Linked DNA regions of Homo sapiens. The protein of the gene in region 1 interacts with the protein of each later gene in a biochemical or structural test. Each region holds a gene or a part of one and is shown in the gene's direction. Other genes may lie near its edges.

Region 1 (3,500 bases):
GGCCTCCCAAAGTGCTGGGATTACAGGTGTGAGCCACTGTGCCCGGCCTACGTACCTTTTTTGATGGTGAATTTTATGATGTATGAATTATATCTTAAATTATTTTAATGTTAAAGAAGCCAATGGGGACAGTTTTCTCTACCTTCTAAATATATCTCACCACCTCTTTTACTATCCTTTTCACCCAAGCCACTGCCATCTGGAGCCCCAATCAAGCACTTGCCTTCCGGCGAGTCTTTCTACTTGTGCCCTTCACTTCTTAAAGCTCTGTTTTCAGCCAGACTGATTCTGTTAAGATGTAAGCCGGATAATCCTCTTCCTTTTCAGAATGACTTCCCATCTTACCAAGAACAAGATCCTTAGTCCTTATCACAGACTGCACACCTCTGTGTGGTCTGGCTCCTACAGCCTCTGTGAGCTCATGTCCTATCACTGAACTTCTGCTGGTCTGCAATCCAGCCATATTGACTTCCTTATGGTTTGTAAAATGTGCCAGCAGGCTCATGGCTCAGAGCACTGGCACTTGCTGTTCCCTCTGCCTAGAACGCTCTTATTTCCATGTGGCTCACTAACTGCTTTAAGCATTGAGTATCTGTTTACAGGGTCGTGCTAACAGAAAATGTTCATTAGTTCATTAGGCATGATCATGGTGTAGTATTTTACCTATGTAAAGTAACACCTCTGTTTCCTCTTTCCCCGCTTTTTCTTCTTAGCACTGTAACCATCTGATATGTTTTGACATCTTTTTTTTGACCCCTTTAGAATGTGAACACAAATTTACTGCTGTATCCTTGGATTTAAAACAGGGCATGCCACATAGAAGAGGGCACCAAAAAAAATTGCTGCTTAAATGAATAAATGATTATCTACTGCCCTCTTTTTCTGTACCACTTATGCCAACTTCAAAGAATACTTTGGCTACCCATGTGCTACTACTGCTCTAATTTTTCTATTTAGAAGTTCTTAGAAAATTCTAGAATTTCTAAAATTAAATTCTTAAATATATGTGGTTTTCAATAATCTCTGACATATTTCTGTAAATACAATTCTCTTTTCTTCCTTTTTTTTGGTTCCTGTTTTTTTATTTCAGATGGAGTCTCACTAGGTTGCCCAGGGACTACAGGCACACCACTGTGCCCAGCTATAGAAACAAATATATATTCAGATAGAAGTTTAGTGTTAATTATTTAATTTGCCCTATTAAAAAGAATTTAAATGATTCCTGTTTGAGAGAATTGCTCCTAAGCCTGGAAATACCTTTGCTGTGATACTTTAATCTTCAGAGGAACTCTCAATTTTTTTTATTTATATTGAGTTGTATCAAAGGTTTATACTTCAAAACAAAAAAAGATTGAGACAGTTTATGTTTTCCGTATTCAAACAGATCTACTTTCCCTGTTTGTCTATTCCGTTAGTTTATCCTTCTGTCTTCCTTAAATAACTTTTTTTTTTAAGATCGTGTTGCGTACCAATCCTTAAATAACTTTCTTTTGGCAAACACCTTACCTTGCCACTCTGAAATATGAGCCTACCAAAGAGGGATAGCTACTTTGCTAGCGGCCTACATTGCTAAAGACTAGAATTTTGAACCTGGAATTGCTAAAATGTTCTTTTTTTTTTTTTTTTTTTAAATGGAGTCTTGCTCTGTCACCCAGGCTGGAGTGCAGTGGTGTGATCTCGGCTCACTGCAAGCTCTGCCTCCCAGGTTCACGCCATTATCCTGCCTCACCCTCCCGAGTAGCTGGAACTACAGGCGCCCACCATCATGCTCGACTAATTTTTTGTATTTTTAGTAGAGATGGGGTTTCACCGTCTTAGCCAGGATGGTCTCAATCTCATGACCTCGTGATCTGCCCGCCTCAGCCTCCCAAAGTGCTGGGATTACAGGCGTGAGCCACCGTGCCCGGCCCAAAAATGTTCTTTGTGTGTGTGTGTGATGGAGTCTCACTCTGTCACCCAGGCTGGAGTACAGTGGTGCCATCTCGGCTCACTGCAACCTCCGCCTCCCAGGTTCAAGCGATTCTCCTGCCTCAGCCTCCCGAGTAGCTGGGATTACAAGCACACACCACCACACCCAGCTAATTTTTGTATTTTTAGTAGAGACAGGGTTTCACCATGTTGGCCATGCTGGTCTCGAACTCCTGACCTCAGGTGATCCACCTGCCTCAGCCTCCCAAAGTGCTGGGATTATAGGCGTGAGCCAACACGCCCAGCATGATGTGTTTAATTTATTATGTTTTATTTCCTCACGCTAAACTTTAATCCGTAAGCATTTTTGCACTTTGGGAGTCTGAGGCGGTGGATCACTTGAGGTCAGGAGTTCGAGACCAGCCTGGACAACATGGTGAAACCCTGTCTCTGCTAAAAATACAAAAAATTAGCTGGGCATGGTGGTGGGCGCCTGTAATCCCAGCTACTCGGGAGGCTATGGCAGAACGATCACTTGAACCTGGGAGGCAAACGTTGCAGTGAGCCCAGATAGCACAACTGCACTCCAGCCTAAGTGACAGAGTGAGATTGCGGCTCAGAAAAAGCATTCTGTTTTTAAAAGGGTGCCTATGTGTCTTTATCTTTCGCACCACTAACCTCTGAGTCTGAACCTCTGTCTCTTCTCATCTTCCCTGCTGCAGTGGCTTCCTTTGTGGAATCCCTGCCTCCAGTTTCTCTCCTGTAATATCTCCTAATGGTACTATAAAACACCCCTTTGACTGTATTATTACTCTACTCAAGTACCTTCCATTCTACTCAAGCACCTTCCAAGAGTCCCGGGTATCTACAGGATAAAGTTTAAATTTCTTTTTTTTTTTTTTTTTAAGACAGAGTCTTGCTCTTGTTGCCCAGGCTGGAGTGCAGTGGCGCGATCTCGGCTCACTTCAACCTCTGCCTCCCGGGTTCAAGCGATTCTTCTGCCTCCGTCTCCCAAAGTTTGGCCGAGCACTGTGGCTCCCAGCACTTTGGGACGCCAAGGCGGGCAGATCACCTGAGGTTGGGAGTTCAAGACCAGCCTGACCAACATTGTGAAACCCCATCTCTACCAAAAATACAAAAATTAGCTGGGCATGGTGGAGGGAGCCTGTAGTCCCAGCTACTCGGGAGGCTGAGGCAGGAGAATCGCTTGAACCCGGGAAGCAGAGGTTGTGGTGAGCTGAGATTGTGCCATTGCACTCCAGCCTGGGTGACCAAGCAAGACTCTGTCTCAAAAAAAAAAAAAAAATTCTTAACCTTTTGTGTAACATCCTTCACCACCTAGACCCCAGCATAGCTTTCTAGCTTCCCCTCACATAATTCTTCTCTTGCTAAATTTTCCAGCTAAACCCATTGCCTTATTATCTCTTACATGTCTTTCCTTTTTGTGTGTTGATGCTCTCTGCCTAATGCCCTCCTTGCTCTCCACATATCCATACCATAGACTCAAAAATGTTTACCCTACACCTTGCCTTTTCCCTGAGGCTTCTCAGGCAGTTCTAGCTTGAGCTCCTCTATATGAAGAATACTTATTA
Region 2 (3,500 bases), on another chromosome or scaffold:
TTTGTGGCCCAAGACTATTCTTCTTCTTCTAATGTGGCCCAGGGAAACCAAAACACTGGACACCCCTAGTCTAGAGGGAGATCATCTCAGGCTGAGAGAGGAGCAAATATTTCCTGAGGTGGGAATCAGGCTACTGTGTTAAAGGAACAGGAAGAAAGCGTGTGTACTGGAGCATAGAGTGTGTTAAGGAGAAGGCAGATGGTGAGAGATGCCATTCAAATGGTAAAGAGATGGATTGTATTCCAATTGTGGTGGAAAGTAGGGAAGCAGCGGTGTGACCTGATACTCTAAAAAGATCCTGTTGTGTAGAAAATGGACTAGGGGAAACAGAAGCAAGAGACTAGTTCTTCTCTTGCAGTGGCCCAGATGAAGGAAGAAGCGGTTTGACTGTGTAGCCGTAGAGGGTGGTAGAAAATTGGCAGTTCTAGGAGATACAGTGAAGGTATAGCTGACAGGATTTGTGGGTGGATTGGGTATGGAGGATAATTAAAAAGAGCAATCAGGCGGGTGCAGTGGCTCACGCCTGTAATCTCAGCACTTTGGGAGGCCGAGGCAGGCGGATTACGAGGTCAGGAGATCGAGACCATGGCTAACACGGTGAAACCCCGTCTCTACTAAAAATACAAAAAATTCACCGGGCGTGGTGGCGGGTGCCTGTAGTCCCAGCTACTTGGGAGGCTGAGGCAGGAGAATTGCTTGAACCTGGGAGGCGGAGCTTGCAGTGAGCGAGATCACGCCACTGCACTCCAGCCTGGGCGACAGAGCGAGACTCTGTCTCAAAAAAAAAAAAAGAGAGCAATCAGAGATAACTCCATGTTTTAGGCATGAGCAGTGAGGTAGATTGTGCTGCCAATAATTAGGATGTGAAAGATTGAGATAAGAGCAGGTTTAGGGTAGGGAAGTGAGGAATCAAGAATTTCACTTTGACATAAGAATGAGACATTTTTCCGATAACCGGTGGACATGGTGGTCATTGGCATTTAGGTGGCATTCAAGGTCATGTGATTAGAGTGGTGACTTCAGGAAAGAACGTGGATAGAAAAGGGCTGAAGAAGCCTGGGCAACATAGTGAGACCTCATCTCCAAATAAAATCAGCTGTGTATAGTGGCATGTGCCTGTGATTCCAGCTGTTCTGGAGGCTGAGGTGGGAGGATCACTTGAGCCTGGGAGGCCAGGGCTGCAGTGGAGCTCCCACTGCACTCCAGCCTAGGTGACAGAGTGAGACCCTGTCTCAAAAACAAAACAAAACAAAGAAAATGGCAGAAGATTGAACCCTGGGGGATTCCAGCAATTAGAGGTCAGCAGAAAGAGGAAGTGCCAGCAAACAAGGCTGCACATGACATGTCAGTGGGCTCAGAGGATTTTCAGGCATGTTCAGTGTCCTGGAAGTCAAGGGAACAACTTGTTTAAAAGAAGAGGAAGTGATTAGCAGTATCAGATACCAAAGATGTCAAATAAAATTAGGATATTGGATTTGACAAGATAAAGGGTGTTGGTGGTCTTGGAAAAGAATGATTTCAGTGGAGTGGTGGGAATGAAAGCCTAATTAGAGTAGTTTGAAGAAAGAACGTGAGATAAGAAGGTAGAAACAGCTTATGTGGATAACTCTTTAGAAGAGGTTTCAAAGAGAGTGGAGAAATGGGTGGCTACAAGAAGGGCATGTGGCCTAGAGAGCAAGTTTGTTTTTTAATAGGATGGAAAATAATTCGGCAGACTTTTAGGCTGATTGGTATGATCCAGTAGAGAGAGCGTTTGGTCCTTCGGTGAATGAGAAGGGATGGGACTCCAGGAACAAAAGAAGGCGATGGCTTGGATAGCAGCAGGGACAGTTTATCCATTCTCACAGGAGGGAAAGCAGAGCATGAGGATACATATGCAGGTAGCTTGGTAAATTTATTAGTGGGATGATCAGGCAGTTCTTGCCAGATTGCTTCTGATTTTCTCAGCATAATGCAGCTAGATTATTAGCTGCGATAGAGTTTTGAGAGGAAGGAATAAAGTACTCATCTCAGACGGTGAGAAAGATCATCACTAAGGAAACGCAGGGTTGGAAGCAGTGCTGAGTGTCCAGTTGAGTTTCATGAGCAAACATTTGCTGTGGGACCAGTTTTCATGGTGGTTTGTCATTTTGTCCAGCTGCCTGGAGCTGCTTGGTTGAAGGCACAGAATAATCAGATTAATTGTTTAACTTGTATGAATTTCTTTATTTTAAAATAGGAATAATATCTGCCTTGGGAGCAAGTTGTAAGAGTTAACTGAAAGCTTAAGGAAAAAACTTTCGCTCGCTATTTAAGTAGGGCTTTACAAGTTACAATTCTATCACAGTTTTAAGATTATAAACCAGTGTTTTTTTGGTATAAAATTATATACTAGTATTCTTATGGATAGAATTTAATTAGCTCAATTTTGAGATTTGGAAATTCACTAGTTATTGACCTTTGGGGAAAAATTGCTGATTTGGATCTTAATATATTGTAGGCTGATATTTATGCCCTGATAGTTTCCCAGAAAAACATGAGAATATGGCCAGAAAGGAATATACTATGAATGACCTTTTTCCTTGAATTTCAGAGGCAAGTGCAAAAACCTGTGATGGTGTACAATGTGCCTTTGAAGAACTTGTTGAAAAGATCATTCAGACCCCTGGACTGTGGGAAAGTGAGAACCAGAATAAAGGAGTCAAACTGTCACACAGGGAAGAAGGCCAAGGAGGAGGAGCCTGTGGTGGTTATTGCTCTGTGTTATAAACTCTGGGAAATTCCATCTCTTGCATATTTGATCAGATAGTGACATCTTTCTGTATATAAACTCTTTAACTGCTATTTTAGGGACCTTGCAGTTTGCACATAATTGTTTTATATCATAGCAGTAAATATTTGCAAGAAATCCCACTCATCGACCCCGGGTAAAATGTTATGGTAAGCATGCACAGTTTGCAGTCTACAGTTTTTTTATGTAGCACAAAATAGGTGTACCTTTATAAGTACATTCAATTTTATGATTTACATTTATCATGTAATTTTTAAAAAAATCCATCTATCTAGGATATGTTGATACAAAGTCTGCTTTTGCTATTCTTTTTGCTTAAATACTCCTATCATTTTCTGAATTACTTGGTATTTAGAACTCCTAGCACCACGGGGAAGAATAGAGGTATCATCAAACGTGGCAAATTTTCTTTCAGGAATAATAAAGAGCATGATTCCACAGCTTTTCTGGGATGTTTGAGATTCTTTTTTAGTACTAAGCAAAATTCTCATCACAGAATGTAGCCCAGGCCAATTTATAACTAAATCTCTATTTGTTCGGATGATGCTTCTAAAACAGCATTGATAGGTTAAAGAAGCTTGGTATTTTTAATTTACTTCAATGATTAGCTCAGTTGCTTAACTGGAGTTTTAATCCTGTGATATGTACATTGGATTCATGACTGTGCAGCATTTTTAGTTATGTGGTGTTTGGCAGAATGACAATAAGGTTTTCCCCCATTTTGGTTTCA
Region 3 (3,500 bases), on another chromosome or scaffold:
GGCCTGGTGGGTAGTGCAGGCCGGGCTTTTACTCTTCTCTGTCCTCTTCTCTTCGGCGGCTGCCTCGGCCCCTCCCTGCATTTCCTTCCTCCAAGGATGGCAGCTGCCACTGTCTGGGCACGTGGGCGCCGGCTCGTCCGTGCAGTGTGGTGGAACGACGCACAGCCGTCCTGGTCCCTGCACGGGGGTGGCGGCCACACACCGGAGTCTCAGCCGGGCACGCCGGGCCAGGGCCTCCCTCCTGCTGTGTGCAGGTCTCAGGCTGAGTAGGGCAGTGGTGGGACAAGGCCCCACCGTCCCTGCCAGCAGCTGCCCCAGCCTGGCCCTGCCCAGGCCCTCCTGGTTGTGGACAAGGGAAGGGCCGGCCGCTGACCCAGGCATCCCTCACGGGCATCTAGGGACATGGAGGACCAGGCTGCAGGCCCTGTGAGAGCTCAGCCAGGGGGGGCTTGGCAGGTGGGAGGCTGGAGCCAGCACGAGGCCTGGAGCAGAAGGGGCTGCATACAGGAAGCTCCCGTCTGTCCCCTCGTCCTTCCGTCCACCCCCACGCTGGATGGTCCTTTGCCGCGGCTGTCTGATGCCGTATCCTGTGCTGTGCCTGGGCTGCTGGCATGGGGTGGCCCCCACACGTGGGCTCTGATGGGGGCCCCAGTGGGGCTGGGCACAGCCAGGCGCCCTGGGCCCTCCTGAATTGACAGGGTGTGCAGCAGGACCCAGGGCCTCGAGGCTCTTGGCCCGGGCTCCAGGCCTCCTGGAGGGTTTACCTGGGGGGAGCAGAGCCCAGCACCTGCTGCTCCACTGCCCCCTGGCTGAGCAGTGGCCCTGTACCTTGTGACCTCCAGGTCTCGGTCCATCAGCGGTGCCTCCTCAGGCCTTTCCACCAGCCCACTCAGCAGCCCCCGGGTGAGTGACCCCCCGCCCCCACCCAGCTCGGATGCACAGAGGCCCCAACCCTCCCAGTCAGCGTGTGCCAGGGTGGGGGCAGCCTCGCGGACCCTGGGAAGCAGCCCCAGGCGCCCCCCATGCCCACGCTCCTGTGGCGGCTGCTGCTCTGTGGCGCAGGCTGCTCTGCTAACTGCACGCTCTTTTGTTTTGTTTTGTTTGTTTTCTTGTGTGTCACTTCTTTTCTTTTGTGGCTAATCCTCCTGCCCATGCCTGCCTGCCTCCCCACCCTCCCGCTCCCGCCTGTTTCTTTCTGGTCCTCCTGTGCCGTGTGCATGCGGGGGACTGGGGTGCATGTGCCGCGCGGCTGCCCCCACCCCGCTCGCTCCCTGCGCCTCCCCGTAGCCTATTAGGAAGCTTGTCCTGCCCCCACCGCCCCCCGAGCCGCCCTTCGTGGCCCGCCCCCTGGCCACCTCCACGGAGCCCGAAGCTTGTGGGAGCGCCTCGAGGCCTGGACACGTCCTCCCTCTGCAGGCCGCCCTGCGGCCCGACCCCAAGACCCAGACCTTGCCGTGCAAGGCCAAGCTGACCGACAAGCCTCTGCAGGGCACCAAGTCCAACCCCTTCCCGGCCAGCACCCCAGCCCGGCCTCCCGCCACTGGCCTTTGTCCCCAGCTGGCACCACCCCTGGGCCCGCCTGCCCTGCGGGTGCCCCCCCGGCCCCCACCCGCCGGGATTGAACCAAACACCAAATCTGTCCCCACCATACAGGTGACCCCTCACCCCTCACCAAGGGGCAGTCCCCTCCCCACCCCCAAGGGGACACCTGTCCACACGCCAAAGGAGAGCCCGGCTGGCACGCCCAACCCCACGCCCCCGTCCAGCCCCAGCGTCGGAGGGGTGCCCTGGAGGGCGCGGCTCAACTCCATCAAGAACAGCTTTCTGGGCTCACCCCGCTTCCACCGCCGGAAACTGCAAGGTGAGTGTCTGCCCGGAGGCGCCAGAGTGGGGCTGGGAGAGAGCAGAGGCTGCCTTGGGGAGGGCCCCGCCCGGCAGTGCCAGACCAGTCCGAGGGGCCTGTAGCTGCAGGGGTGGCCTGGGCCTGCCCACGTCTCACTGTCCCGAAAGCGCCCAGCAGCAGCCTGTGTCCTACCTGTCGCACAGGCTGGTATCCCCTCCAGACATTCTGTGTTCCTGAGTCTACCCACTCTGTGTCCTGGGGCCAGGCACACAGCAAGGAGAGCTGGCCACCGAGGGGGCACTGCCAGTCAGGAGGCCCCATGTGTGGGGCACCAAGGGCCAGCCAGTGCTGCTGGAGAAGGCACAGCCGACTTCAGCACCAGAGGCGGGGACAGCTCCCCTTAGCCTGGGGGGCGCCACTGCCAGTGGGCCTCTAAGGTGGCCGGGAGCTGGGGTGGACCAGTGCCCCTGGGGGGGCTGTCCCAGTGTGTGTGGGTGGACTCCTGATGACCCTGACCTCGGCGCAAGGTGGCCAGGGCAGGGGAAGGATGGAGCGGTCACCACGCCTTTCCTCCTGTTCATCCTGTGTGCACAGTTCCGACGCCGGAGGAGATGTCCAACCTGACACCAGAGTCGTCCCCAGAGTAAGTGGCCCCTGCTGGAGGCCTCCTGGTACCTGACACCAGGCTGGCCGGGAGAGGGGCATGGAACCCTTCCCCTATGGCCAACGGGGTGCTCCTTCTCCACGTGGCCCCACCTCCCACTGCAGGCAGGCCCGTCTCGGCCACTGAGTCTCTGAAGTTCGAATTCCCGGCTGTGAGGGGAAGGCCAGCCAGGGGAGGAGCCCCCAGCCCTGTTGAGAAGCTTCAGGCCTTGGGAGAGCCTAGGGTTGGCTGGAGGCGAGCAGGGGGTACACTGGGCAGAGTCTCCCCAGGGCCTGAGCTCGCCAAGGGCAGAGACCGGGTCGCTCAGGTCTCAAGGAGAAAGCAGCCCGTGTTAAGAACAAAGGGGCAGCAGGCCTGGTGGGAACACGTGTGCAGGGGCGGAGCGGAGCAGCCAAGCCGAGGTCTGGCCCCGCCGCCTTTCTGAGCCGTGAGAGGTGCCACTGCAGAGACTCTACAGCGCCCAGGTGCTGAGATGCCCTGGGGGCCGCTGTGACTGGTGTCTGGACAAAGATGTCCCCAGAGAGACCCCTTCCCAGCGCCCAGGCCCTCTCCCTCCTCTCCACGATGGCCTCAGTCACTGGGCAGTGTCTCGGAGACCAGGCGACTGGCGGTGTACACATATGAGCCTGCAGCGTGACCCCAGGCCAGGCAGCGGCAGAGAGCGGCGGTCAGGCTGGAGTCACTTCACAGGAGACCCCGGGAAATGAAGATGTGGCCAGCTGTGGACTGAGTAAGACGAGAACCTTCGTCCTGCTGCTGGCTTTAAACCAGGGGCCCCTGTGGAAACTGCTCAGTGCTAAGCCCCAGGAGCAGCATCTGCAGCCTGTGCCAGGATTCCACCCAGTGGCCTTTCTGCGCCGATCAGGTGGCCCTTCCAGCTGGGTGCCCAGGTCGGAGGTGTGTAGGTATTGTCGCAAGCCCAGATGCACAGGGCTCAGCAGACTTGGGAACCTTCCGCCTAGGCCCTGACATTGCCGTTTCTGCTGCTACCAA
Region 4 (3,500 bases), on another chromosome or scaffold:
TAATTATACATTTTCTAATACAGTGTTCTCCAGCTAGTTTTTCACAGAAGCATCTGTCATCTTCCATTCCTCACTGTGGCTCTCAATCCAGTAAGGAGAAGGAGTTTGAATATCCTGTCATATTCCTCCTTCCCTCTAGTGGTTTGCAGAGTTAAAATTTACACCACCATTAACAACCCTCTTTTTCTCTCAATTTGATTTTTAAATTCGAGGAAATATAAAGAATATCTCCCAGTTGGAAAAGTTGGAAGGATCCTTGTCATAGTGAGTACACTGACGTTACAGTACAGATGACAGCAATCCACTGTTACACACATTGAACCTTCAAGGAATAGCATACCCTGTTCTGCAGCAATTTAGTTACTTGCTGTGTTGATCCATATAGATTCTCTACCCTGAAATTGTACATATATAAAATCAACAAGCTATTTCTGAGGTGTGTATGACAACCTGAAAATGATTCCAAAGAATTATGTTACATTTTGTTCTGGTTCCCAATTTTCTTGTAGTTTTGGAATTCTCTACACACAACTGTCATCAGGGAAGATGTCATCCCTTTTTATGAGGAGATACATATATGTGAGAAATTGGGCGGAATAAATTATTCTTGAGAAATTTTATGTATCATTTCGAGGAGAAGCTGAACCCAGAACTATAAAGCTAAGGCCAAGTATGACTTCTTTCCATTGCAGGGACTTTAACTGCACTTCGAATGTGTTACCAAGGTTATGGTTACCCTTTGATGCTGTTCCTGGAAGAAGGAGGAGTGGTGACAGTCTGCAAAATCAATACACAGGAACCTGAGGAGACCCTGGACTTTGATTTCTGCAGCACCAATGTTATTAATAAAATTATTCTGCAGTCAGAGGGGCTCCGTGAAGCATTTTCTGAATTGGATATGACGAGTGAAGTCCTACAAATTACCATGTCTCCTGACAAGCCTTATTTCAGGTACTTGAGAGCAGTGCAGTTATAGTTAATGTGGTCTGTACTCCATCTTCCCACTTAGACATTTGCTTAGGATGCAAAATTTTTATTATCCACATTTTTAGAGTTTTCACAACTTTAGACAGCTTGTACTCTTACCTCATAATTTTATGGATCAAGAAACTTAAGACCCAGGAAGATTAACTCACTATTTCATATTTAGGTGGTGGTGGCATCTAGATGAGAAGCCCAGTCCTCTAATTTATAAACTGGTGGTGTTTTCATTGTACTACTCCTTACTTTCATAGATCAGGTTACATCATGAGGAAAATTGGGTTTAAGTGTTTGGAAAGGGTGTTTGTATTATGGTATCTTTTTCAAGTTAGTTCAGGATGCAGAAGAAGATGTTTTCTACACGTGGCTCATTCATTCACTAAGTATCTGTTGATCACCTACCGTGTGCTTATTCATCTTATTAAGCATTGTGGGAAGAACAGCTTAAAACCAAGGTGAAGCCAAGAAAATGTGAAACAGCAAACCATTAAGTACCAAGATAGCACACACAGATACCTGGGAAATGCTGTATAAGGATTTAGGGAGGATTGCTCAAGGCTGGCTTCCCAAGGGAGGGCAGTTTTCAGCAGGAGTACAATGTCAAAAAAGCTGTTCTTGATAGTTTAACACAAGTCTCTTTTCAGGATTAGACTCAGAGATTCTAGCAATTTAGAGAGAGGATCTAAATATTCTCTTTTTGAAATATTTCAGAATATTAAAGCCCCTAAATACATATGGAATAAAAGGAATAAGGTATTCTTTTTGTAACTACTTTAGAAGAATTACAGGCCCGGCTGTAAAAGTGCTGTGGCAGACACCTGTAATCCCAGCACTTTGGGAGGCCGAAGTGGGCAGATCACTTGAGGTCAGGAGTTCAAGACCAGCCTGGCCAATGTGGTGAAACCCTGTCTCTACTAAAAATAGAAAAATTAGTTGGGCGTGGTGGCACGTGCCTATAATCCCAGCTACTTGGGAGGCTGAGGTGGGAGAATCACTTGAACCCAGGAAGTGGAGGTTGCGGTGAGCTGAGATTGCGCCACTGCACTCCAGCCTGGGTGACAGAGTGAGAATCTGTCTCAAAAAAAAAAAAAGAAAAGAAAAAGAATCACAGGCCCTTGTCATGACTTTGGGGAGTTAAAAATTTGGCTCAAGGTCTGAGAAAGTTAACCAAAATGGAAATTGGAAACCTTACTTTAGCAGTGGAATGAAGTAAAAAATTCAGGTACTTAAAACAGTATTTCAGGGGATCTCCTCAGTGATCTCTCTCAGCCTGGGTAACGAGATGGACCATGGTATCTTTCATCTCCAGGATGGGAAACAATTTGGTGGTAGGGAGGTAGGAGTTGAAATTTTTTCCTGGATATGTTAAATTTTAAGTACCTGCGACACTAGGGAGTGGCTGGATATGTAGTTATGGTGCTCAGGAGATCCATTTAGACTGGAAATTTAGATTTGGGAACCATCATCATGGCTGGGTATGGATGAGACGGGTCAGAGAGAGAGATTATATTAGAAGAAAGAAAAGATGGACCCCAGGAAAACCACACCTGGAAGATGGGAGGCAGAAATGGAGCTTAGGGAAAACCAACCTGGATCTTATCGCCATGCTCATATAATACTTAGCAACGTGCTAATCCTGCAGCAAATGTTCCAGGAGTTCTTGCAAATTAAATCAGCATGTTAACACTTATAAATTGTCTACAAATAACTTCTGGTATTACCAAGTGAGGAAAACCATGCAATAGCCTTAAGAGCAGTCTAAGATACAGAAAAGCTGTAATTCCTAGGTGTAGGATTGGGAACAGACCTAAGGGTTGCAGTAGACTTAGATCAAGGTCTTCCATGAGTCCTCAATTCTCTCGCCTGTTATATATTTCTGACTTAAGGATGAGGAAAAGTCATTTTCAGAGTAGGATTAGGGTAATGAAATTAAAGTGTCCCCTACCCTTTTCCTTTTACAATTGATTTTCTTCAAACCCATTGATTAGTTGTCCTGAACTCCAGTGGGAGCTTTATTATGGTACTTGTTATCGTGTGTTATAAGCATTTGTGTACATGTCTGTTTCACCCACTAGTATGAATTTCTTAAGGAAGTGTTTTCTTTATTTGGATCCTAATGTGGTTTATTTTTGGATGAATGAATAAATGAGGTAATCATTTTCTATAGGTTATCTACTTTTGGAAATGCAGGAAGTTCCCACCTTGACTATCCCAAAGATTCTGATTTGATGGAAGCATTTCATTGTAATCAGACCCAAGTCAACAGGTCAGTTCTTAATATAGAGGTTGTCATTGGTGATAAAGAGGAGGTTAAATACCAGATTTCTGTTAAATAAAAACACTTTCAATCTGTTAATTAAAATGCACAGCATTTTATAAAAATGAATAGTAGAGTGCTGGACTTACTAGGGGATGTAGGGTTCTAACAGTGAATGAATTTTAAAACAGAAAATATTAGCAAATTGGATAAGTACTTGATTTTATTCTTAGATTTGCTACTTTTTATCCTTTACTTGGGA

The links.
Region 2: the proteins of COPS5 (region 1) and RAB18 form a complex in vitro, tested with the Homo sapiens proteins (one study listed by BioGRID).
Region 3: the proteins of COPS5 (region 1) and BRSK2 form a complex in vitro, tested with the Homo sapiens proteins (one study listed by BioGRID).
Region 4: the proteins of COPS5 (region 1) and RAD1 form a complex in vitro, tested with the Homo sapiens proteins (one study listed by BioGRID).

The regions. Positions count from the first base shown.
Region 1 is NC_000008.11:67,052,134-67,055,633, reverse strand, and holds part of COPS5 (COP9 signalosome complex subunit 5), read left to right. Parts: intron 1-3,500. UniProt on the Homo sapiens protein: Probable protease subunit of the COP9 signalosome complex (CSN), a complex involved in various cellular and developmental processes.
Region 2 is NC_000010.11:27,535,304-27,538,803, forward strand, and holds part of RAB18 (ras-related protein Rab-18), read left to right. Parts: intron 1-2,572; coding exon 2,573-2,748; coding exon of another isoform or gene 2,749-2,788; 3' UTR 2,789-3,500. UniProt on the Homo sapiens protein: The small GTPases Rab are key regulators of intracellular membrane trafficking, from the formation of transport vesicles to their fusion with membranes.
Region 3 is NC_000011.10:1,448,934-1,452,433, forward strand, and holds part of BRSK2 (serine/threonine-protein kinase BRSK2), read left to right. Parts: intron 1-842; coding exon 843-903; intron 904-1,287; coding exon of another isoform or gene 1,288-1,653; coding exon 1,654-1,861; intron 1,862-2,437; coding exon 2,438-2,486; intron 2,487-3,500. UniProt on the Homo sapiens protein: Serine/threonine-protein kinase that plays a key role in polarization of neurons and axonogenesis, cell cycle progress and insulin secretion. Phosphorylates CDK16, CDC25C, MAPT/TAU, PAK1 and WEE1.
Region 4 is NC_000005.10:34,909,005-34,912,504, reverse strand, and holds part of RAD1 (cell cycle checkpoint protein RAD1), read left to right. Parts: intron 1-692; coding exon 693-951; intron 952-3,148; coding exon 3,149-3,247; intron 3,248-3,500. UniProt on the Homo sapiens protein: Component of the 9-1-1 cell-cycle checkpoint response complex that plays a major role in DNA repair. The 9-1-1 complex is recruited to DNA lesion upon damage by the RAD17-replication factor C (RFC) clamp loader complex.